7 linked regions of the Homo sapiens genome follow. The protein of the gene in region 4 purifies or fractionates together with the protein of the main gene of each other region. This does not show direct contact. Each region holds a gene or a part of one and is shown on either strand. Other genes may lie near its edges.

Region 1 (3,500 bases), on a different chromosome or scaffold from region 4:
AGGAGCCTGAGTAGGGTTTGATCAAGGTGAGAACCTCCTCTAATTCAGGGAAAGAAGAGACACTCCTCTTTCCCCTGAACAATATAAATCCTTTTCTTCCTTGATCACCTTTTGTTCACTAAAAACCAACTGAGCCATTTATTGGGACTTGGTAGTGGATGAATTTTGCTGGATGGTGAGAGTGACCAGGCATTTAATGGGGGACATTTCTATGGAAACAAAAAGGGAAACAAAGATGAATGGTTGGAGCAGACTATAAATCCATTTTCTGAGTCCAGAGGGCAGCCAGTTGAGATTTCTAGGTGTTGAGCTCTATGTTTCTTTAGATGGTGGAATGAGGATAGCAGTGGCAACCGATGGATTTCTTCGTTTGTAGTTTGAATGTTTGTGGTGATAGCATAGACAGTGTTGCAGTCACGGTTATTTCCCTGAACAGAGCCTGGAAGATACAGAAGTGTCAGTGGACTTTTTTCCTTTTTTTTTTTTTAATGAGACAGAGTTTCGCTCTTGTTGCCCAGGCTGGAGTGCAATGGCACGATCTTGGCTCACCGTAACCTCTGCCTCCCGGGTTCAAGCGATTCTCCTGCCTCAGCCTCCCAAGTAGCTGGGATTACAAGTGTGTGCCACCACGCCCAGCTAATTTTTGTATTTTTAGTAGAGACGGGGTTTCACAATGTTGGCCAGGTGAGTCTCGAACTCCTGGCCTCAAGTGATCCCCCCTCTTTGGCCTCCCAGAGTGCTGGGATTACAGGCATGAGCCACTGCACCTGGCCGGCTGGGCATTTTAAAAGAGGGCGGCGGGGAGTGGGCAGGGGAATGGTAGGGCCTTGAGCAGAGCTGGGGGAGTGGAAATCAGGTTGGTCCACATGAAACCCATCTGAGTTTGCTAACTAACTGGCACTTACCAAAATAAGGCCCTTACCCTTTCACAGAGACTGGGAGACGGGGCCCTATCTTCAGGAGTTGGCTGAAACAAATGGGAAATTCTTTTGGCAGCTTTGACTTTTCCCAGGCAGGAATTTAAGGGGCTTGGAGTTGCCATGCTCAGGGTGTGGCCTTGAACTGTTAGGAACAGTGCTGGTGTTGTTCAAGTCTTTTAACGTGGGAGTAGGGGTGGATGAAATCATTTGTGCTGAGTGTGTGCAGTTTTATATAGGCCAAGGTTGAGGCCTAGTCCAGAAGAGGTCTCAGAGGACCCTGGCTAGAGTTTGGTCAACGAGATAATCTTTTTCTCCCCTGTACCCCTGCCAGGATTTGTGTGAGCTCCACCATCTGGACATCTCCTATAATCGCCTGCATTTGGTGCCAAGAATGGGACCCTCAGGGGCTGCTCTGGGGGTCCTGATACTGCGAGGCAATGAGCTTCGGAGCCTGCATGGTGAGTGGGGGTGTGTGATGGGGCAAGCATGGAGGGGAAGGGGGAGAGTGAGGCTGGGGCTGGCCTGGGGACCATGTGCCTCTAGAGCCTTGAGAGGGCTTATGGGGAGTGCAGGGGTGCTCTGGCCGGTCTTTCTGCTGCAACCTCCCCCAGTGCATGCACCACACTCACTTGCGTGTACTCATCCACATGCTCTTCCTTCCTTCTTGCGTCCACCCCAGGCCTAGAGCAGCTGAGGAATCTGCGGCACCTGGATTTGGCATACAACCTGCTGGAAGGACACCGGGAGCTGTCACCACTGTGGCTGCTGGCTGAGCTCCGCAAGGTGAGATGGGAATGCATCAGGGGCCTGGGAACCACCCTTGCACGTACCCCCCCATGCTGGTTTGGTCAGTGCCTTCTTCACACAGGGAGGGCCAGGGCCCCAGGCCCTCCTCATTCTCCCCTTCCTGCCCCTCAGCTCTACCTGGAGGGGAACCCTCTTTGGTTCCACCCTGAGCACCGAGCAGCCACTGCCCAGTACTTGTCACCCCGGGCCAGGGATGCTGCTACTGGCGTGAGTGATCGTCCTGTGTCCACTCTTCTTCCCCTTTCCTGCCCAGTCCTCCCCCACCTTGCACCCTCTTGCCATCCCTGGGTGAGGGGCCAAGGACCTGGACCCTGCTTACTGTGTTCTTAATACCTGGAGCTCAGCAGGATGGGCCTACCACATACTCCCTCCCCCTTTTTGTCTTTGCTCAGTTCCTTCTCGATGGCAAGGTCTTGTCACTGACAGATTTTCAGGTCGGTGTGGTTGGGGGGCGAGGACTGTTGGGGGAAGACACGAAGGGAGGGCGCTGGGGAGAGAACAGAGGGCTGGCTGGTGACAGGGTCTTCCTGGTCAGTGGAAAGTAGGGTCCCGCCTTTTGGCTGGCTTGGGCAAGGCAGAGGTGCTCCCAGGCTCCAACCTCTCTCTCCTTCCTGTCGTCACGTGCCAGACTCACACATCCTTGGGGCTCAGCCCCATGGGCCCACCTTTGCCCTGGCCAGTGGGGAGTACTCCTGAAACCTCAGGTGGCCCTGACCTGAGTGACAGCCTCTCCTCAGGGGGTGTTGTGACCCAGCCCCTGCTTCATAAGGTTAAGGTAAGCAGCGTCCTCCGCTGCCTTGTGCCTGCGGTTGGGTGTCTCTCCGGGGACTCTGGGCTACAGTGGGCAGGGAATGGTAGGAACTGTGCTTGCACGTGGTCAAGGTTTCTTTGATAGGTTGGATGGCCAGCCGTGGATGGCAGGGCTGGAGGCTTGGCTTTCACAGAACTTCTTCCCTCCACCAACCTCAGAGCCGAGTCCGTGTGAGGCGGGCAAGCATCTCTGAACCCAGTGATACGGACCCGGAGCCCCGAACTCTGAACCCCTCTCCGGCTGGTAAGTCAGCTTCATCCCACTAACCTCTCTCGTCCCCAGCGAGCTCACTCTAATTTTTAAGTTACAGTGAAGATCTGCTGGAAGAAATGTTATTTTTTGTTGGGGTAGAGTATTATAGAGGGCTTCTTAGTCTTTTTTCTTTTCTTTTAGTTTAGGGAAAGGAGAAGACTGCTTCTGGGAGCATTTTGAAAACTTTTCGAGGAACATTAATTTTGTGGGGTGTCAAGAGATCATGTAGGCCAGGTGCAGTGGCTTACATCTGTAATCCCAGCACTTTGGGAGGCTGAGGTGGGAGGATTGCCTGAGCCCAGGAGTTTGAGACCAGCCTGGGCAACATAGAGAGATGTCCATTTCTACAAAAAAATTTTTAAATTAGCCTGACGTGGTGGTGTGCGCCTGTAGTCCTAGCTACTTGGGAGGCTGAGGCAGGAGGATCGCCAGAGCCTGATAGTTCAAGGTTGCAGTGAGCTATGATCATGCCACTGCACTCTAACCTGGTGACAGAGTAAGACCTTATCTCTTAAAAAAAAAAGTAAAAAACCCCAAAACAAAAGAAAGTGTATATGTATATATATAAAATAATAGGATTGTGGCCAGAGAAGTTTGAGAAATGTGAGGTTGAAGAGAAATAGGTGTGTCAGCTGCCGGCCGTCTCGGGCCCTTCAGGATGCTATCATGTATGCTGAGTCTCTGGAAGTAGCATAGGATGCGCAGCTTGG
Region 2 (3,034 bases), on a different chromosome or scaffold from region 4:
TTTGGGAGGTCGAGGTGGGTGGATCACAAGGTCAGGAGGTCACGACCATCCTGGCTAACATGGTGAAACTCCGTCTCTACTAAAAATACAAAAAAAATTAGCTGGGCGTGGTGGTGGGTGCCTGTAGTCCCAGCTACTTGGGAAGCTGAGGCAAGAGAATGGCGTGAACCCGGGAGGTGGAGCTTGCAGTGAGCCGAGATCGCGCCACTGCACTCCAGCCTGGGTGACAGAGCAAGACTCCATCTCAAAAAAAAAAAAAAAAAAAAAAAAAAAAAAAAATGCCCGTTCATTACAAAGTGAGAAGAAACTATGTTAACATTGTTCTTACAAGAGGAGAACCAGGGCTCTGCAATTTGAAAGGACTTCAACTGTTTTTGACAGAGCCTTACTCCTTGGGTCCTCTGGAGCCCAAGATGATAGCATAAAAGATAACTTCATGACTTCCAGTCTAGGCTCGCTGAACAAGGTGGCCTGGGAAGAATAACTAGCAGTACAAGTCGTGTGGGATAATCTATTTTAATGAAACTCATTATATATATATTTACAAAAAGAATAAAGGAAAAAGACAAAAACAAAAATAGATATTACAGCTTAATAAAAAGTACAACTGAGCACTGTGGGCTGGAGGTGGGATACCCACCCGCAGCACGCCCACCCTAATGTGCCATCTGAGGGCCTGGAGAAAGGACAGTGGGAAGGAGACAGTAGGCTCAGCCCAGAGATGCCCCTGTCCTCAGGGGCTCAATGTAGTTTGACCCTGACATTAAACCTTTTATGTCCTTCCCAGTCAGGAAGGTGGCTGGGTACAGGGGTGGGGGTGAGGAGCAGAGAGAGGTACAGGGCAGGAAGGAAAAAGTAGAAGGGTCCTGAAGGGCAAATTAGGGTGGGTAACTAGGGAGTTAAACAGGAGCAAGAAGCTTCTATTTGTAATCCCAAAATCTGGCATGAGTAGAGAAGGAAGAGGAAATGGGGAAGGGGTGATGGGAAAGGGGAGCGGAGGAAGGGAGGCAATTTATTTATTTCTCCCTGTCTCTTTTGGATAGTTCCACTCTTTTATGTTAATCCCAATCTGAGACAGGCCCAGGGAGGTTCCAGTGACAAATTAGTGGTTGTGTCCCAGTGGGACAGATGCTCTAGGAAGTGAACTGCTGAGCTGGCAAGAAAAGCTGGGGTCCTCCTCAGTATGACACAGCTCCTGGCTCCCGGGGAGCAATGAAAAGGACATCAGCTTTGGCATTGATGCAGTAGGTGACGATGAGGGAGAAGATGAGGATGCCGAAGCCCACTGTCAGGGTGATCAACTGCAGGGGGAGGGAGGGCAGGAAAGGACAAAGGCATTCTCAGAACTCAGTGCAGTTTTTTGGATAACTGTTTGGGGTTTGGAGCCATGGGAATTCGGATGCTGGCTCTAAGCACCAACTATGGAATAATCATGGGCAACATCTCTCCAGCCTACAGACTTTGTCTCCCCATTTGAAAAGAGAAGTAAAGCATCTCTGTTCTTGCTTCCATCTTGTATTACTTAGATTTTAGGCATTTTGAAAGGAGGGCCCATGGCTTTGGTTCCCTTGCGGCACTTACATTACTGACTTGTGACAGGAGCTCGGTACATTAGACTGACTCATCCCAGCTGTGCCAGATGGGGAATGCCAGCCGGGAGTTGAAGCTGTGAAAGAGTTCTGGGATCCACAGGGGCTCTCCAGAATGAACACCTACTCAAACTATCTGTGAAGAAAGGCCTCCTGGCCGGGTGCAGTGGCTCACGCCTATAATCCCAGCACTTTGGGAGGCCAAGAAAGGTGGATCACCTGAGGTCAGGAGTTTAAGACTAGCCTGACCAACATGGTGAAACCCATCTCTACTAAAAATAAAAAAAAATTAGCTGGGTGTGGTGACACATGCCTGTAATCCCAGCTACTCGAAAGGCTGAGGCAGGAGAACTGCTTAAACCCAAGGGACGGAGGTTGCAGTAAGCTGAGATTGTGCCATTGCACTCCAGCTTGAGCAACAAGAATGAAACTCCATCTCAAAAAAAAGGCCTCCTAAGGGAACATGCTGGCTGACCAGGGACAGATTTGCAGTAGGCTTTTGCTACAAATGTGGGGCAAATGGGAGATGGAAAGGGCTATATGACACAAGAAAGCAGAGAAAGAAGTCAAACAGATCCCTGCCACCTATGCCCCTGCCCCATCTCACCTCAAGCTCTTTGCTGGCGATGAGAAATATCCGGGCACGGATATCTTTCCAGCGGCTCTCAGTCCATGTAGAGTATTCAGTAGAGCTCCACTGACTCAGTTCAAAGGCAGGAGACAAGGCCCTGGCTAATCGTGCAGTAGAACGCACACACCGGGGGAGTCGGTCCGTCTCATTAGAATGCAAAGGGCCCTGGACCCATGAGTACTCATACAGCTGCACAGAAGATGCGCCACAACACACGGCTAGGGTGATCCTCTTCTCACTCGTTCCCTCTACCCTCTATCAGTGCCATGCTCTAACCAATTGAGCTAACTGGCTGCTGTCCCTTTACCCTTCAGATGGTCCATTTTCACCCAGGCTTTTCAACACCCAATTGCTGAGGACTGCATCTCTCCACCTCTCCATCCCAATCCCCTGGGTCTAACTAGGTCTAGAAGAACCTCCAACTTTCCCAAGGGAAAGGGGCCCCAGGGCACTTCCAACACCCACCACCACTCACATCCTTGTTTTCACTTGGGACTTTACTTGGATCCTGGCACTGCTCTCGGGTGAGGTTGACCACTGTGCCAGTCAAATTTGCCAAGGCATACTGTACAACATAAGTGGTGTTGGTGGGGCTGGAGACAGCGATGTAATGTTGAAGAGGCCCGTCACCTGAGTGCAGACCAAAGGGAAGGGAAGATTTGGTGGGTGGATGGTGGGTGAAATAGGAAAAGCCCAAGATTGGCAGCAGCCAGAAAGAAGGGCAATGGAAAAGGATCCATCAAATATGAGAAGAAAGAAAGGAAAACAGGGGGTAAGAAAAACAGAGAGGAAAAAGAAAAAAAATAATAAAGGT
Region 3 (2,653 bases), on a different chromosome or scaffold from region 4:
GACTTCATATCATTAACTTAAGAATTTCCTCAGGTATTAAAGAGGTCAGTGAACATGACCTCTGAAGTCCTTTGAAGGTTTAATATTCTAGCAATTTCTTTGTTGGAATCAGTTTTCTATTTCACCTGCTACAGAAAACTCAACTGGCCTGTGGTACAATATACCTAGTATGGTTTGGCAACCTGGTAGCTAACCTATAACAGATTAATCAGAACTTTCTGAAAACATTTTAAAGAACAGTTCAACAGAGTTTCCTGTTAACTACTACTTTTCTTTAGTCTGACACACCTGAAGTGCTAATAACACCAAATTAGTCTTTTAACACATTGCCCCAGATTTCATTTCCTGTTATTATCTTTGTGATTTTTTAAAAATGAAGAACTATATTGTTTGCCCATATTAAATAACTTTTATAGCTATGAAACTCGTCATGTCTTGTTGCTGTGGTACAAATATAATCTGAAAAATTTTATGAAAATATTTAATGAGGCTTTTTAGCATTTTTTTCAAAATAGGGATTTATTATAAAAACTATACAAACTTTTTATCACTCACAAATGATGAAAAATTTTAAACAATTAGTATCCTCCCTCCAAAATAGTGTGTTCTGTCTTTACAGTCTTCACTGGCAGTGCATTCAGATAGTATAGAAAATAACAAACATTCCATATAACTTTGTCCCTACAGTAAATAATTTTTTAAAACTTTTCATCAAGTTTCAGTGTTACTGAAGTTAATTATAGACAGTAAGGATTACAGAATAAGCAGTAAATGGTCACCTGCACTGTATTTTTCAAAGCAAAAATTGTTTTATATTTTCTATGTTGTTTTATCCTGCCCCAAACACTTAAAGCAAAAGTTAAATATTTTTCCAGTTACCTGAAACTTCAAAAATCTATTGTACTTTGAAAAAACTTTAAAAAGCAGCATCATTTAAATAGTGGTTAACTCATAAACGTGTATGCAACAACATTCCACAACCCTAATACCACTCAGGCCTGCAGAGTCACCAGCTCACAATAATTCAGTGCTCTGAAAGCTGGGGGGAAAGCCCCTGAGTAGTAAGTATGCAACCCAGGGTGTCGGGTGCTTTCTTGTGGTGAAACAAGGGTGTCAAAACTGAGGGGACTCTCCAAGGTCCTAATGAAAAGCAGCTCCTCTAAACACCTGAATCCTTTTTGACTCCATTCTCATCACTTTAAGGATGAAGCCTTTCTGTACAAAGGCTTTGTACAGAAATTATTAAAAACTATATTTTACACTAATGCTAACAGCTAATTGAGCAGAAAGAACTATGAAGTACAAATTTTTCTAAGGTTTTCTTATTAATGGCAATACAGACTTTTTTTTTTTTTGAGACGGAGTCTCGCTCTGTTGCCCAGGGTGGAGTGCAGTGGCGTGATCTTGGCTCACTGCAACCTCTGCCTCCTGGGTTCAAGCGATTCTCCTGCCTCAGCCTCCCGAGTAGCTGGGATTACAGGCACCTGCCACAATACCCAGCTAATTTTTGTATTTTTAGTAGAGACAGGGTGTAGTAGTATATATTCTACTATACTATAGTAGAGACCACTATGTTGGCCAGGCTGGTCTCGAACTCCTGACCCCAGGTGATCCACCCGCCTCGACCTCCCAAAATGCTGGGATTACAGGTTTGAGCCACCGCACCTGGTCGGCAATATAGATTAAGGTGGGGGTTATTTCCTAAAAACAAAAGTAATCCATATGTCATCTAATGCAGTTAAATTAAAGATCACCTGTTGACACTATTTGAAAAGGCCTTGAAAAAAAAAAGGGGGCCATTATTTGGAATATAAATCACCCTTATAAAATTCTATTATCTATATAAATTGGCCTATTTTCAAATAATAATTTAGCTATTTCAATTACCATTTTAAGCAATAAAAGGCAAAAACAAAGGGAACCTACTGAATTGTACACTTAAACATGAATAAGAAGGTAAATTTCATGTGTATTTTATCACAACTTAAAAATTTTAAAAAATACTGAAAAAAAAACAAAGGGTAACTTTTGGATAATGTATGATACTAAGAAGGGCATGCAACTAAGTAATCAGACTGCTTTTAGTAAGAAAATAAGTTTTTTTTTTTTTTAATTTCTCGAGACAGGGTCTCTGTCACCCAAGCTGGAGTGCAGTGACACAATCAAGGCTCACTGTAGCCTCAATCTTCAGGGCTCCAGGGATCCTCCCATCTCAGTCTCCTTGGGAGCTGGGAGTAGGCATGTGCCACCATGCCTGGCTAATTTTTTAATTTTTTTGTAGAGATGGGGTCTTGTCATGTTGCCCATGTCGGTCTCAAACTCCTGGGCTCAAGCGATACTCCCACCTTGGCTTCCCAGTATTGGGATTACAGGTGTGAGCCACCATGTCTGGCTTGCTTCTCTTTTTGTATTCTAAAATTCAAAGGCCTAAGTATCAAATCCCTAAATCTCCAAATACTGTCACAGATAAAGACTCAATAATAAACTCCCTCCGAAAGTTTAGACAGGCTCAGGTGAGAGACTTGTTTCAAGGGGTTATAAAAAGAAACACCAGTGCTCTGCAGAAGAATCAGTTTTTAATTTTTTTAATGTATCTATTTAATGGAATAAGTTGATCATAGATTTGTAAACCAAAAGGTAATTTCTCAAGTAT
Region 4 (3,500 bases):
ATGATGGTTTCCAGTTTCATCCAAGTCCCTACAAAGGACATGAACTCATCATTTTTTATGGCTGCAGAGTATTCCATGGTGTGTATGTGCCACATTTTCTTAATCCAGTCTATCGTTGTTGGACATTTAGGTTGGTTCCAAGTCTTTGCTATTGTGAATAGTGCCGCTATAAACATACGTGTGCATGTGTCTTTATAGCAGCATGATTTATAATCCTTTGGGTATATACCCAGTAATGGGATGGCTGGGTCAAATGGTATTTCTAGTTCTAGATGTACTATGAGTTATGTAAGTTGTATCATCGGGGAAACTGGGTTAAGGATACACATAAATTCTACCATTTTGCAACTTTTTGGTTAAGTCTACAATTATTTCAAAATAAAAAGTAAAAAAAGTACTGTCCTAAATTAAGATGCAAATATCTAAAAGGACTATAGTACTCCATTTAATTAGATTTGAATCTGATTTCGCTCATTTGACTCTGACTTTTTTTTTTTTTTTTTTTTTTTTGGTGAGACACAGTCTCGCACTGTCGCCAGGGCTGTTTGCAATGGACTCCTGACCTCATGATTCTCCTGCCTTGGCCTCCTAAAGTGCTGGGATTACAGGTGTGAGCCACTGAGCCTGGCCTTGACTCTGACTTTCTAAAGAATGAGTGGCCGGCTGGGCACGGTGGCTTACTCCTGTAATCCCAGCACTCTGGGAGGCCAAGGCGGGCAGATCACCTGAGGTCAGGAGTTGGAGATCAGCCTGGCCAACACGGTGAAACCCCGTCTCTACTAAAAATACAAAAATTAGTCAGGCATGCAGGCATGGTGGCGGATGCCTGTAATCCCAGCTACTCAGGAGGCTGATGCAGGGGAATTGCTTAAACCTGGGAGGTGGAGGTTGCAGTGAGCTGAGATCACACCACTGCACTTCAGCCTGGGCGACAAGAGTGAGACTCAGTCTCCAAAAAAAAAAAGAATCAGTGGCTAATGCACAGTGCTTTAAATCACACATCATTTTGAATAAATCAGTAAAATTCATTTCAGATGTTGCAGTGTTAAACAGAACTTTGATGGTTTACTATAGAATAGCTGTAGGACACAATAATCCATGCAATGGTATTCATGGAGGTATTTGTTTCTTGTCCTAAGTAACCAAGCTCTGACAAATGAAAGCTCAAAGTGCCAGTGGGCAATTTTGCTCTTTTTGCCCTGGATGACAAACAAAACTGCTTACCTGTAGCACCACACTGCAAAAAATGCTCCAAAAAACACAAGCAAAAACGCCATGTAGGTGATCCACATGATGACATACATGGCGTCCAAGCCAAGGATCGTCCAGGGAGCAGGAGGAGGTGGGGGCTGGGGCTTGGGGCCACAGACAATAGAGCAGTCTTGGCAGCTACATGGTGCTGTGACCTCATCCACAGACTCGTCACAGCCTTTGGTGGCATTGTTCATGGGCTCCATCCCATGGACTGGAAAATCTACAGAAAGGAATTGTGTTGAGTACAAATCTCAATTAAAAACATCCAAAATTTTGTATTATACTTAAACTCAAAGAAAAGCCCACTGAAATACATAAAACAACTGAAAGAAGAAAAAGAATTGGAGGTTTTAGTTTAATTAAATTATGTTTTGCTGCTTCGTCCTATGGAATTTTAAGTTACCTCAATAAACTTGCGCGTAGGGGTTTGTCACTGATAGAGGAATCCTCCAAGTACACCACATACCAAGGCAACCCTTCAATCATGTCCCATCTCCATTCTCAGGAGCTAATACTATAGCAGAGCTCTAGAAAAGCTGCCTCCCACCCCCTTTTTAACTGCTTATTCTTTCAATTATGACAGCAATGCCTGAAGGCAATTCATTTCCTCCTCCATTCCCACTCCCAGCACCCCCTAAATTAGCCACAGCAGGATAAATGTACCAGTTACCTCTCTTACTGGGAGAAACTATGAACTAGTTACCTGAATGTGTTTATCTTCCTATTGTAGATTATGCTTCCTCAACTAAGATTCATTCATTCATTCATGGAGAGACAGGGCTTTGCCCTCACCAAGGTTGGAGTACAATGGGATGATCGTAACTCACTGCAGCCTTGAACTCCTGGACCCACGCAATCCTCCTGCCTCAGCCTCCCAAGTAGCTGGGACTACAGATGCATGCCACCACACCTGGCTAATGTTTAATTCTTTCATAGAGATGGGGCCTCACTACATTGCCCAGGCTGGTCTGGAACTCCTGGTCTTAAGCAATTCTCTTGCCTCAGTCTCCCCAAGCACTGGTGAGCCACTGTGCCCAGCCAGTTCCTTGGCTTTAAAACAATATCATAAACACACCAAACTTGGAATCTTTATACCTACCTGAAAACACAGGAGTGATGGTAAAAGGTGCCTGTCCATTGTCCTTATTGAACATGTATTCAATCCAGTTGGTGGCATTACAGGCGTCAGCGTCCTTCCCACACAGGAGTCCCAGGGCCTTGTCATTACTTGAGGGGGCCTCCACATCCCGGCAGGCATTGTACATTGCTAGAAGAGGAAACCCAAAGGAAAAAGGAGACAAGATGCTTGCTGTAATTCACGAGGCAAGATCTTACAAAAGGCCTCTTGAAGGGAAACACGAACTCCATATGCACCATGCTGGAATGCTGGACAGCAAACACTAACTAAGGGCACGAACAGAGATTCCCTTTAAATTGGCTTATCACCCTGCAAATAATATGGAGGCCCGATTCCAAGTAACTTAAAAGTAAAAAACAGACAGGAAAGGGAAAGGCACACGTTATCTCATAGCTCTCACAACAGCTTGGAGAAGTCAAATCCCCACTATATAGAAGAGTATACCAAGGCCCAGGAAGACGCAGCTAAGAGCCTCAGTACTTCTTCAGTTAACAAAGCTGGTTCCAGAAAACCTCTGCCGCAGGAAGCTACACAGCCAGAGAATTATGGAACTTACTTGGAAAACTGGTTTTAGAGCAGAGGTCACGTGTCAATAAACCTAATACTGTTGGCCGGGCACGGTGGCTCACACCTGTAATTCCAGCACTCTGGGAGGCCGAGGTGGGCGGACCACCAGGTCAGGAGATGGAGACCAACCTGGCTAACACAGTGAAACCCCATCTCTACTGAAAATACAAAAAATTAGCCGGGCGTGGTGGCGGACGCCTGTAGTCCCAGCTACTCGGGAGGCTGAGGCGGGAGAATGGCATGAACCCGGGAGGCAGAGCTTGAAGTGAGCCAAGATTGCGCCACTGCACTCCAGCGTGGGTGACAGAGCAAGACTCCATCACAAAAAAACAAAAAAAAAAAACAAAAAAAACCCCTAATACTGTTATCTTTTTGGATTTTATTTTCTTACACATACACACAACACATTATATAAGGATAGTATCAGTGTATTACACCTAAGAAAATAGCTGGAATGGGTCCTGTACTGTCGATTCTCATTTACCAGTCTCTGCTTGCTAGAAACTTCCCAGGATCTTCTTTCCCTAATCTTCAAGGAGAT
Region 5 (4,287 bases), on a different chromosome or scaffold from region 4:
GGTATGCTACAGAGAGCCACAGAGTAATTACACACACACACACACACACACACACACACACCTGCAGCATTGCTAGTCTGCTACAGTCACATGGCAATTTCCCAGAAAAGTTATCCAGACACATGCATGTGTGCACACAGACACAGAGCTGCAGAGGGTCACAGAAACATACAGCAACCCACAGAAAGTCCCGGATAAATTATATTCACACACATAGCCACGAGGAAGTCTCAGCAAAGAGCCAAAGACAGCCATACAGTGAAAGACCAGTCCCAAAAGACCCCAGGTGACACATACATAGTCCCAGGTAAATCAGGTCCCACGGTCAGCCAACACATCCCCACTGAGTTGTTCCCGTGCCCGCACTGGGCTCACCATCTGGCAGGGAAGACAGAGAAAAGGCTACTTCTAAAGTGGCAAGGGGCTGGGCGCAGTGGCTGATGCCTGTAATCCCAGCACTTTGGGAGGCCGAGGCGGGTGGATCACCTGAGGTTAGGAGTTTGAGACCAGCCTGGCCAACATGGTGAAACCCCATCTCTACTAAAAATACAAAAATTAGCCAGGTGTGGTGGCACGCACCTGTAATCCCAGCTACTAGGGAGGCTGAGGCAGAAGAATCGCTTGAACCCAGGAGGCAGAGGTTGCAGTGAGCCGAGATCGTGCCACTGCAGTCCAGCCTGGGCGACAGAGCGAGACTGCGTCTAAAAGAAAGAGAAAAAGGAAAAGAAAAAGTAAAGTGGCAAGGGGTGGAGGTGTCAGTGGCTGTAGCTGGTGGAGAGCCCTGATGCTCACAGTCAAGCAGGACTTGGGAATAATGCAGCCGAGCAGGGCGTGGATCTCGAGGACACAGTGGCCAGGTAGTGGAATAATGCGTGGCACATGCTATACTAACTGTAACAGGTGGACAACGTCAGTTATCATTATTGCCTCCAAAGTGCCCTGGGTACTCCCAGGGTCTTAGAAGGGAGGGTTCCAAGCCTACAGAGAGCCACAAGGGGTCTCACACTGTTCACACACACACAAAACCACAGAGGGTCTCAGCTGTACACAGAGAGGCCTAGGCACCACTCAATACTGTCACAAAGGAATACACAAGGGAATGTTCACACAAAGATGGAATCAAATTAAGTTACAGCCACACTCACAGAGCCCCAGACACACAACAATGTCACAAATGTAACTTACATTGGCACACAGAGCTAAATGAGAGTTTCAAGCCAGGCGCGATGGCTTAAGCCTGTAATCCCAGCACTTTGGGAGGCCGAGGTGGGTGGATCACCTGAGGTCAGGAGTTCGAGATCAGCCTGGCCAACATGGTGAAACCCCATCTCTACTAAAAATACAAAACTTAGCCAGGCGTGGTGGCACACGCCTGTAATCCCAGCTACTCAGGAGGCTGAGGCAGGAGAATTGCTTGAACCCAGCAGGAGGAGGTTGCAGTGGGCCGAGATCGTGCCACTGCACTCTAGCCTGGGCGACAGAGCCAGACTCTATTTCAAAAGAAAAAAAAAAAAAGAAGAGCGTTTCAGAGCTAAATTACAGGCATATGCAGGCACAGAGGGTCATGGTAGAACCCAGAGCCCCAGGCACACTTGTACACACACCACTAAGTCACAATGGGACGCACACTGGTAACTTACAGCAACGCTTGGAGCTACAGATAGAATTAATGGTAAAACACACACAGCCCAAGAAGGATCAGAGCTGCTACACACGGTAACTCCAGACACATGTACAAACACTCCAACGTCACACTCAGACACACAGGGGTAATTTATATTTGCACAGGGAGCTACAGATGGAATGAGACACAACACGCACACAACCAGCTGCTCACAGCCACAGATTTGGAGCCCCAGACACACACAGGTAACTTACAGTGACACACAGAGCCGCGGTCAGAATTAGTGGTTAAGTTACACGCAGGAACTCTATCAGAGGCCCAAAGCTGCTGCAGGCTAGCAGCCCCAGACACACGTACACACACTTGCAAGACAATTCACAGTCGGAAGCACATGCGCCCACCTGGACCGGAAGGGGAGTAAGAAGTCAATTCCGAGCACACAGGACCCCCCGCCCTCCATGACCTCAAGCACGCGGTCCTGGAGAGACGCAGGAAGCCCCCACCCCCGGCAGCCCCGAGACCCGCAACAGCCAAGGACGGTGGGAGGGGGCCCAGGCAGGAGGGGGCTGCCTACTCCCGGCGCGCCCAGGGCTCCGCGGCCTGTGGGCCTGGGCTGGTCCCGATCCTGTCTCCATCCCAGGCCGGAGCCCCAGTTCGGCCTCGCGCTCACCCCTGGCTTACCAGGCAGGGGGTTGCCAGGCCTGAGGGCCCTCCCCGCCAGATGAACCCGCGGGCCCCCAGCCAAACCCCGCAACCCAGTGCGTCGCGGGCCGGCAGTGGCGACCCAGACCCCGGGCCCTGCCCTGCGTCCGCGCCCCACTCCCCAGCTGCACCCCTCGCCCGGGGGCCCCCTGCCCCGCCCCCACCCCGATCGCCCCGGCCAGAGCCATGTGCAGAGGCCCCCGACCTCTGCAGCGGCCGCTCCGCCCCCTCCCCAAGCCCGCGGCGCCCCCTCCCTCCGGTGGCCTCCCCCGCGCGCCCGGTCCCTGAGCTCTAGTCGCCCGGTCCTTACTCGAACATGGATGCGGCGCGGTGGGCGCGCCCCGGGCGCAGGGCAGGGCAGGGCAGGGCAGGGCTGGGCTGCGCGGGGCTGGGCTGCGCTGGGCGTCCCCGCAGGGCACCGGCCTGGCCTTCCGCGGCCGCCGCCCCCACCCGACCCAACCGCCCGCACAAAAGGCCGGAGCCGCCGGAGGCCGCCGCGGCGTCAGCGACACCCCCTTCCTTCCCCCGCCCCGCCGCGTCACGGCGCCGCCCCCAGCCCGGGAGGGAAGGCGGGGAGGGGCCGCAGAGGCCTAGAAGGAGGGAGAAGCCGGGGAGAGAGGGACTGGACAGAGAAGGGAAAGCAGAGGGGCAGAGAGACAGAGAAGGAAACAAAGAGACTTTATTAAAACCAAACATCGTGGAGGCAGCTGCCTGCCCGCAGGTTGGGGAGCCCCCTCCCCTAGTACCTAGAAAAGGGTCCCTAGCAACTACTATGCCCCTGGCCAGAAGCTCCTGGACCTCCCAGGGAGGAACCTGAGAGCCGGGGCGAAGGTGGGGGAGGACTGGAGATGCTGGGAAACCGAGGTGTATGTATGGGGGAGGGGGCCTGAAGCTGGCGGGAAGGGGTGGGGCCGGTTGGCCGCCTCCTCCTTCCCTCTCCCAGTCTCTGAGCCCGGGTTCCTGGTCCCAGGAGGTCCGGTGCCTCCGTTTCTAGGGACTTCCCAGTTTTGGTCAGCCAGGCCAAGTACCAAGTCAGAATCCAGCCTCCCTGGCTCTTATCTGTGCTGAGACCTTGCGCTCATCACCCCAGTGCTGGGAGTCCCACTAACTCGGTGGTAAGGGCTTTTCCCGGGGACAGCGCAGGAACGGGCAAAATCAGTCCTTTTACGGAAGGAGAAGCCCGGCCTCTAAGATGGGAAGTGACTTGTTGGGGTCACCTGGTAGGTAGGCGGCAGAGTTGGATTCGATCCTGCTCTGACGCCATAACCTGCGTCCCCCCTCCCCCGCCCCGTCTGCAAGAGGTCAGAGTCAGGTGGTGTCCTGGACTCCTGGCCCAACCACACAGAAATGCGAGTCCCACCTCACAGCTCCGGGGCTGTGGCTCCCCAGCGCTCTCCAGGGTACGCTGTCCCCGCCTCTTTTGAAAAAACTCCCTTCCCAACCCTCTCCATCAACCCTTCCCCTCCTCCTGCAAAAGAAGCCCACCTGACTTCTCCATTTTGATGAATGGCAGGCCCAGAACTTCAGAGTCTTTTCTGACCCTCTCTTTTCCTTCACACCACATCCAATCCGTCACAAACTGTGGGCTCCACGTATAAAATCAATCGCTCCATTCTAAACTCTTCTTCCTCCGCTGCCCACGCCCTGGCCCAGCCTCCATCCTCTCCTGCCTGATCTCCCTGCTCCCATCCCTGCCCCTACTGTCTGTTCTCACCTGCAGCCAGAGAGAGCCTGGGACCACCTGAGTCAGTTAACTACCCTCCTGGCTCAGAGCCCTGCCCCAGCTGTACCTCACTCCAGGTAAAAGCAAAGTCCTCACCTTGGCACCCAAGGCCCCTGTCAGCTCTCTGACTTCAGCTCCTCATCTCCCCCTGGCTCACACCCCCCATCCAGCCTACCCGCTGTTCTTCTAACTCACCAGGCACCTTCCTGCCTCCTACCCCAAGACCTTTGCACTGGTT
Region 6 (3,500 bases), on a different chromosome or scaffold from region 4:
TATGTACTAATTTCCAAGGCAGGGGCCAAAAGAAATGGTCAAGGCAGAAGGCCAGAAAAGAACACAGATAACCAGAACCAGAAGAGCACAAAGGCCATTGAGAAGAAGGGGCTAATAAAATATTAAATTCCTCAAGTAATGGTATGTCTTCAATCTGCTTCTATTTCATTTCTCATAGGATACAGTACAGTGTTAGACATTTGACTCAGTGCTTAATAAGTACCATATTGATTAATTAACAGAAGCCTACAAGTGAAAAAAGAAAGAGGAGGGAGACTGGGAAGGAAAGAAAAAGAGACAGAGGTAGGAAGAGAGAAGAAGGGAAGGAAGGAGGGGAAGGAAAGAGAGAGAAAAAAGAACAATGATCATGAGTTTATATAAAACAGCCCCTTAGAGGGATCAAAAGCAAGGTTAAACTACAGAAAATATGGGTAAGACCAAGCTTAAAGTTAAAGGAAAGGCAATAGGGCGTAGAGATACTAAAAAAACTGTGGCTGGTATCTACATACTTGTCCTTTCTATTAGCAACAACTAGCTATGTGACCTGGAACAAATCCCTTATCCATACATGTATTCGAATATTACTGATGGTCTATTATTTGATTAGCACTGTCCTAGAGATTCAGAGATAAAACACATTGGTCCCTGCCTGGCAGAATGTTCATTCTAGCTGGGGAGGGACACAGATAATAAAAGTAAGCAAAGTGCAATGTTAGAGGGTAAAAAGAAAAAAGGCACAATAGGGTAGATGGGGAATACTGGGGGTGGGAATGGGGTTGGTATTTTATATAGCACGGTCAGGAAAAGCCTCAACTAGAAGGTGACATTTGAGCAAAGAGTCAAAGTGATAAGACAAAGCTAAGTGGATTATTTTAGGAAGAAAGTTCAAGGCAGAAGGAACAAATGTACAGGCCCTGATTTGGGAGTCCACATGGCATGCTGAAGAAGGCTGTATGGCTAGAGTAGAATGAAAGAAAGGGCAAGTAAATGAGATGAAGTCCACTCATGTGAAGCCTTATAAGGCCACTGAAAGATTTTTATTTTTACTCTTAATGAGATGGGAAGCTGCTAGAGGGTTATCCGAATAGGAATGAGGTCATTTAACTTAAGTTTTAAAAGAATCACTCTTGGTGCTATGTAAAGAACTGACTTTGGGGTAGGTAAAATAGATGAAGGTAACCCAATTAGGAGGCTGTTGCAATAATCCAGGTGGGAAAAGATGGTGGCTTGGGTCAAGGTGGTAGTTGTGAAAATGGTGAGAAGTGGTTGGATTCTGAAATATTTTGAAGATAGGGCCAAAGGTAGGTTTAAGTTGCAAGAAAGGGATGTCGAGAATGATTCCATTAGTTTTTTGTTTTTTTTTTTTTTTTTGCTGGGCGTGGTGGCTCACGCCTGTAATCCTAGCACTTTGGGAGGTTGAGGTGGGCGGATCACAAGGTCAGGAGCTCGAGACCAGCCTGGCCAATATGGTGAAACCACATCTCTACTATAAATACAAAAATTAGCCAGGCGTGGTGGCGCATGCCTGTAATCCCAGCTACTCAGGAGGCTGAGGCAGGAGAATCGCTTGAACCCGGGAGGCGGAGGTTGCAGTGAGCCGAGATTGCGCCACTGCACTCTAGCCGGGGCAACAGAGTGAGACGCTGTCTCAAAAAAAAAAAAAAAAAAAATTTTTTTTTTTTGTTTGCCTGAGCAATGAAAGATTGAAATTGCATTTAGTAAGATAGAAAACAGCAGAGAAAAGCAGGCACAGGATGGAAGTCAGGAGTTTGAGGACTTACATGTAAGATGTCCATTAGACATCCAAGTAAAGCTGCTGAGGAGGTAGCTGGACATGAATACGGAGTTCAGGAGAGAGATACAAACTGTAGATAATAACACTGGGAGTCATCAGCAAGTATATGAAGATAATATATATATTTCTGAGATTACCCAGAAAGTCAGTGTAGACTGAGAAAAGAAGGACCACGTTCTGGGCCATTCCAATATTTAGAAGTTGAAGAGATATGGAGAAACCAGTACAGGGCTTTGAGAAGGAATGTCCACTGAGGTAAGGGGAGCCCCCAAGGGAGTGAGTGATATTCTCAAAGCCAATGAAACAAAAGGTTTATACCATGATCAAGTGGGATTTATCTCAGGAATGAAAGGCTGGTTCAACATATAAAAGTCAATCAATACACCACATTGACAGAATAAAGGACAAAAACCATATGAACATCTCAAGAGACACAGCAAAAGCATTTAACAAAAATCCACCACTAAGGATCCATAAATGGAATCCTCTGAAGATGTTAAAATAATGTGGTAGATCCCTATGTATTGATACAACAAAACTTTAAAGATAAACTGCAGAGTGAAAAATCAAGTTGCAGAACAGCATATACTACATGATTCCATTTATGTTTTAAAAAATTCATAGGAAGGAGGGGGAAGCTGGGAGGGGGAAAAAATTCATAGGAAGGAAATACAGGAAAAAATAAACACAAAAAGCTGGTAAGTAATATACTGCCTAATAGTGAGCTAAAACATTAACTATAAAAAAGGGGTAAATCTTGTTCATAAAAATCACCACTGTAACACACCCTGGGCATGTCATAATTTTGATATTCTCAAGTCGCTTACTTACAGTAGCAACAGGGTCATTGCTCCGGGTGGCTGCAAGACTGAAACATTTCACATGTGTGTTGGTTTCCAAAGCCTTTGCAAAATCTTTTAGGGTTGGAATTGGGATATTCTTGAAAGACAATAACATAAAACATCATTACATTTCAATTTTCATTATATTTAGTTTCCATTAATCAAATATATGGTTTTTTTTGCTTTAAAATGTATTCAGAAATTATACAAACACCTAAGAATTAGTCTACAAATGAATACAAATAATGCAGCTTCCTCCATAATTATCTGACTTATCTACGATGGAGCATTTGCATAAACTACTGACTCAGAGCAGAGCACATATCACCATTTCTCTAGCATTTAGGTTAAAAAAAATTCTCATTATTCTCACCTTTCATTATTCCTTTTATTTATTTATGTATTTTGAGACAGAGTTTTGCTCTTGTTGCCCAGGTTGGAGTGCAACGGCGCAATCTCAGCTCACTGCAACCTCTATCTCCCAGGTTTAAGCAACCCTCCTGCCTCAGCCTCCCAAGTAGCTGAGATTACAGGCATGCACCACCAGGTCCAGCTAATTTTGTATTTTTAGGAGAGATGGGGTTTCATCATGTTGGTCAGGCTGGTCCCGAACTCCTGACCTCAGGTGATCCACCCTCCTCGGCCTCCCAAAGTGCTGGGATTACAGGCATGAGTCACTGCACCCAGCCTTCATTATTCTTTTTATATGAAAATAAAAGTGGATTTACTTTTCTACAAGGAAAGAAATGAAGGAGTCCATCTCTGATGAGTACGATTCCTGAGGCAGACAGACTGTTCTCAGTCACTTAGTTTAAGCTACAAAGCACTAAGAGAGATTAACCCTACACTACTTGAAGGAGAGA
Region 7 (3,500 bases), on a different chromosome or scaffold from region 4:
CAGTGCCCACTAACCCCCCACCTCTTCTCCAGCACAGGTAGACCCTGAATTCAGGGGCCAATGCTTGACCTGCTCTAGTCTATGAATGAGATGTTACATAAATCCCAAGGCATGCTGTCAGATACTAGGGAGAAGGAGAGAAACACCACCTTTAAATTCCTCCCTCTCCACCCCTGGGAGCAATGCAGCTACGTACCACCACCACAAAAGAATAGCCACTTGGCCGCGCGGTGGCTCACGCCTGTAATCCTAGCACTTTGGGAGGCCGAGGTGGGCAGATCACTAGGTCAAGAGATCAAGACCATCCTGGACAACATGGTGAAACCCCGTCTCTACTAAAAGCACAAAAATTAGCTGGTTGTCGTGGCACACACCTGTAGTCGCAGCTACTCAGGAGGCTGAGGCAGAAGAATCGCTTGAACCTGGGAGGTGGAGGTTGCAGTGAGCCAAGATCAGGCCACTGTACTCCAGCCTGGCAACAGAGCGAGACTGTTTAAAAAAAAAAAAAAAAAAAAAAAAAGGCCACTGATCACAACAGCTATCCTTATCATTTTGGGATCATTCCAGGAGGAAAAAGGAAAAATGGGCAGGCAAGGGGAGGTGAAGCCAACTTACCTACAACAAGGAGATCACACAAGGAGATCAGGGATGAGTATGGCGGGAAGTATGGGGGGAAGCACCTGTTTCATATTAAATATATCCTGATTGATAAGGGGGTTGCCTTATAATGTCTTTAAAACATGAAATACTGAAGCTTTCTACATCCATCCCAACATAAGTGTTTATTACTCATAGGTATTTAAATATCATTGATCTAATCTTGTACACATTGGATTTCTCTCATATTATACATTAATTTCAGCAATTCTAGAATTAGTGCAACATGACATGGGACATTTTAAATTCTTTTTTTCGAGACAGAGTCTCGTTCTGTTGCCCAGGCTGGAGTGCAGTGACACGATCTCGGCTCACTGCAACCTTTGCCTCCCAGGTTCAAGCAATTCTCCTGCCTCAGCCTCCTGAGTAGCTGGGACTACAGACATAAGCCACCATGCCTGGCTAATTTTCATATTTTTAGTAGAGATGGGGTTTCACCATGTTGACCAGGCTGGGTCAGGTCAAACTCCTGACCTCAGGTGACCCGCCCGCCTCAGCCTCCCAAAGTGCTGGGATTACAGGCATGAGCCACCGCGCCCCGCCTGACATTTTAAATTTTCAAGCAGTTACTCTCCAGCAGGAAAAACAATACAGAAGTACAGAAGGGAAGCAGAAACACTCCTCTCTTCCTTCTCCCACCCTAAGCCCCAGGGCACTCTCTTGCCGCAGGCTTCATATCAATACAGCACTAAAATCGTCATTTGTGTATTGCCTGTGATAACAATTACACTTGAATCCCAAATTGAAATTATTAACAATTAAAAGGTGAGGTAGAATCAAAGAAAAAAAATCCATAGAATGAAAAACTTAGAATGAACTTGTTGTGGATTAAATCATGTTCCCCAAAAGATATGCTGAAGACGTAACTCCGGTACCTGTGAACTTAACCTTATTCAGAAAGTGGGTCTATGCAGATGTGATGAAGTAAAGATGAGGTCAGGTTAGAGGAGGGCAGGCCCTAATCTAATGACTGGTCTCCTTATAAGAAGAGAGGAATTTGGCCACAGAAACTTACATGGAGGGGAGAGATTGGAGTCATGCGGCCAAGGGTCAAGAAATGCCAGCAGCCATCAGACACTAAGAAGAGGGAAGGAAGGATCCTCCCCCAGAGCCTCCGGAGGGACAGTGTTTCTGCTGTCGCCTTGCTTTTTGAACTCTGGCCTGCAGAATTATGAGAACAAGTTTCTATTGTTTTGAGACCAGGACATTAATGCAGAAATTTGATTCTCCACAGCTGAGGAAAGGGAAGATGAGGGAGGTTACACACTTGCTCCTGGTCACAGGTGTGACACTACAGTGCTCAGGACCTGTAATCACATCAGGATGCTTCCTGTCAAACCACATCATCTCCAGAAGCATGAAGATGGTTCTTCTTAAAAAGTTACTGTAACTAAAACACTGCACCTAAGGAGGAACGGCAGTGACGTGCAAAGACTGAGCTGGGCTGACCCAGATTGACAGCTCCACCCTGCTTTGCCTTCACTAGTGTGGCCCTGGACAAACTACTCTGCCTCTCCAAGCCTCGGTTACCCTGTCTGAAAATTAAGTCACATTGTTGTGCACATTTTCCAGGACGTTGCAAGGATACAATGAGGTGAGCCACGCACAGGGCTTCACGTGCCCTTTGAGTGTCCAACACTCCATCAGCAAGAAATCAAGGTCAGCTCTTGATCTTATAAACTATTTCTCAGACTCCTGTCCCTCCTTGTTGTTTCAAGCTGATTTCTTGGCTCACCTTTCCCAGTCCTCTGTAATACAGTCTTTGATGAATTCTTTCTCTAAAGCCCAGAAGCTGCCACTTCTCACTCGAAGGAGCTGGTGGCAAACTGGCTTTGACTTTCTTGTTCTTTCAACCTCAGTAATTGTTTTTTCTCATTGTCTTTAATAGTTTACCATTTCAAGTGGCTCCATCAGATTTCTTCTTGCTGGGATTGCCTTCTTGTTTTCAGCCTCACCTACAGTCAGCTTCATTTGGGGAGCCTGGATGGCTTCTTCTGAAGAACACAAACTCTTATTGCATATGCTGGATCCATATTTTCAATACAAGTCTTCCAAATAATTGTGTACTAAGAGGCTGATAATCAAGTGAATGCACCATGATTAAAATAGGATTCGCCAAAATAATTAGGTGGCCCTTTACATTCAAGTGTTCAGGTATGAGAATAGTTTTGCTGTCTGCTTTACCTATGTTAGTGGAGATGACAGAAAATCTTTCAGAAAAAGAATCCCAAAGGCTTTTTTTGAAGCTACTACAAGGTATATGGCTGCACACCTTCTCCTGTCTTCAGCTGGAGTTATTGTGTTAACATGAAAGTCTCTTTTTTCATAATAGAAATTGCTGTAATTATAATTACTTTAGAAGAGTGTTATTATTAATAAGACCAAATTGCACGGTTCAAGCAGGTGCTGGTTGAAAGAACTGTTCAAAAGTTCTACAGTTCGAAAGAACCCACATAATGGGATCAGCCGCAAACCTGGCAGTCATCTCCATGCCAACGTGGCCCTGCCTGCCAGCACACACGCCTTGCAGCTCTCAGGCGGGCTTCCGGGCACATGCCTGTGACTCCTCACAGAGTCACTGGGCTTTAAACAATGGACCTCTAGTTCCTGATTAAAGCCTTCGGGGAACAAGCACACTTCCAACAGTTGACTTTCCCATAAAAGAAGGGGAGCTGGAGGGCTCTGGTTCCTGTTGAACCTCTCCTCTCAAGGCCTCTCCCGTGCACACCTGGATCCAGCCCTTCATTCTGTTGCTCATTCAGCAGTGCTGAAGGAAAGAGGAGATGGGGGAACAGCACGGAGTTCCGGAGGGTCCAGTTGCAGTCATACAATAAGTCCCTAAC

What was found.
Region 1: the proteins of NPC1 (region 4) and STK11IP purify together in Homo sapiens (affinity purification with mass spectrometry, with the first as the bait; one large-scale study listed by BioGRID). This does not show direct contact.
Region 2: the proteins of NPC1 (region 4) and NCSTN purify together in Homo sapiens (affinity purification with mass spectrometry, with the first as the bait; one large-scale study listed by BioGRID). This does not show direct contact.
Region 3: the proteins of NPC1 (region 4) and TM7SF3 purify together in Homo sapiens (affinity purification with mass spectrometry, with the first as the bait; one large-scale study listed by BioGRID). This does not show direct contact.
Region 5: the proteins of NPC1 (region 4) and GRAMD1A purify together in Homo sapiens (affinity purification with mass spectrometry, with the first as the bait; one large-scale study listed by BioGRID). This does not show direct contact.
Region 6: the proteins of NPC1 (region 4) and TMOD3 purify together in Homo sapiens (affinity purification with mass spectrometry; 2 studies listed by BioGRID, with this or other methods). This does not show direct contact.
Region 7: the proteins of NPC1 (region 4) and BACE2 purify together in Homo sapiens (affinity purification with mass spectrometry, with the first as the bait; one large-scale study listed by BioGRID). This does not show direct contact.

What each region holds. Positions count from the first base shown.
Region 1 is NC_000002.12:219,604,357-219,607,856, forward strand, and holds part of STK11IP (serine/threonine-protein kinase 11-interacting protein), read left to right. Parts: intron 1-1,251; coding exon 1,252-1,378; intron 1,379-1,599; coding exon 1,600-1,703; intron 1,704-1,838; coding exon 1,839-1,934; intron 1,935-2,119; coding exon 2,120-2,161; intron 2,162-2,355; coding exon 2,356-2,502; intron 2,503-2,622; exon of another isoform or gene 2,623-2,627; coding exon of another isoform or gene 2,628-2,696; coding exon 2,697-2,781; intron 2,782-3,500. UniProt on the Homo sapiens protein: May regulate STK11/LKB1 function by controlling its subcellular localization.
Region 2 is NC_000001.11:160,356,416-160,359,449, reverse strand, and holds the end of NCSTN (nicastrin isoform 1 precursor), read right to left. Parts: intron 2,851-3,034; coding exon 2,696-2,850; intron 2,410-2,695; coding exon 2,197-2,409; intron 1,302-2,196; coding exon 1,179-1,301; 3' UTR 501-1,178; downstream 1-500. UniProt on the Homo sapiens protein: Essential subunit of the gamma-secretase complex, an endoprotease complex that catalyzes the intramembrane cleavage of integral membrane proteins such as Notch receptors and APP (amyloid-beta precursor protein).
Region 3 is NC_000012.12:26,971,079-26,973,731, forward strand, and holds the end of TM7SF3 (transmembrane 7 superfamily member 3 precursor), read right to left. Parts: 3' UTR 501-2,653; downstream 1-500. UniProt on the Homo sapiens protein: Involved in the inhibition of cytokine-induced death of pancreatic beta cells. Involved in the promotion of insulin secretion from pancreatic beta cells.
Region 4 is NC_000018.10:23,559,007-23,562,506, forward strand, and holds part of NPC1 (NPC intracellular cholesterol transporter 1 precursor), read right to left. Parts: intron 2,522-3,500; coding exon 2,354-2,521; intron 1,475-2,353; coding exon 1,225-1,474; intron 1-1,224. UniProt on the Homo sapiens protein: Intracellular cholesterol transporter which acts in concert with NPC2 and plays an important role in the egress of cholesterol from the endosomal/lysosomal compartment.
Region 5 is NC_000019.10:34,998,836-35,003,122, reverse strand, and holds the start of GRAMD1A (protein Aster-A), read right to left. Parts: upstream 2,801-4,287; 5' UTR 2,645-2,800; coding exon 2,637-2,644; intron 1,990-2,636; exon of another isoform or gene 1,879-1,989; intron 1-1,878. UniProt on the Homo sapiens protein: Cholesterol transporter that mediates non-vesicular transport of cholesterol from the plasma membrane (PM) to the endoplasmic reticulum (ER).
Region 6 is NC_000015.10:51,895,653-51,899,152, reverse strand, and holds part of TMOD3 (tropomodulin-3), read right to left. Parts: intron 2,735-3,500; coding exon 2,627-2,734; intron 1-2,626. UniProt on the Homo sapiens protein: Blocks the elongation and depolymerization of the actin filaments at the pointed end. The Tmod/TM complex contributes to the formation of the short actin protofilament, which in turn defines the geometry of the membrane skeleton.
Region 7 is NC_000021.9:41,171,160-41,174,659, reverse strand, and holds part of BACE2 (beta-secretase 2 isoform A preproprotein), read right to left. Parts: intron 1-3,500. UniProt on the Homo sapiens protein: Responsible for the proteolytic processing of the amyloid precursor protein (APP).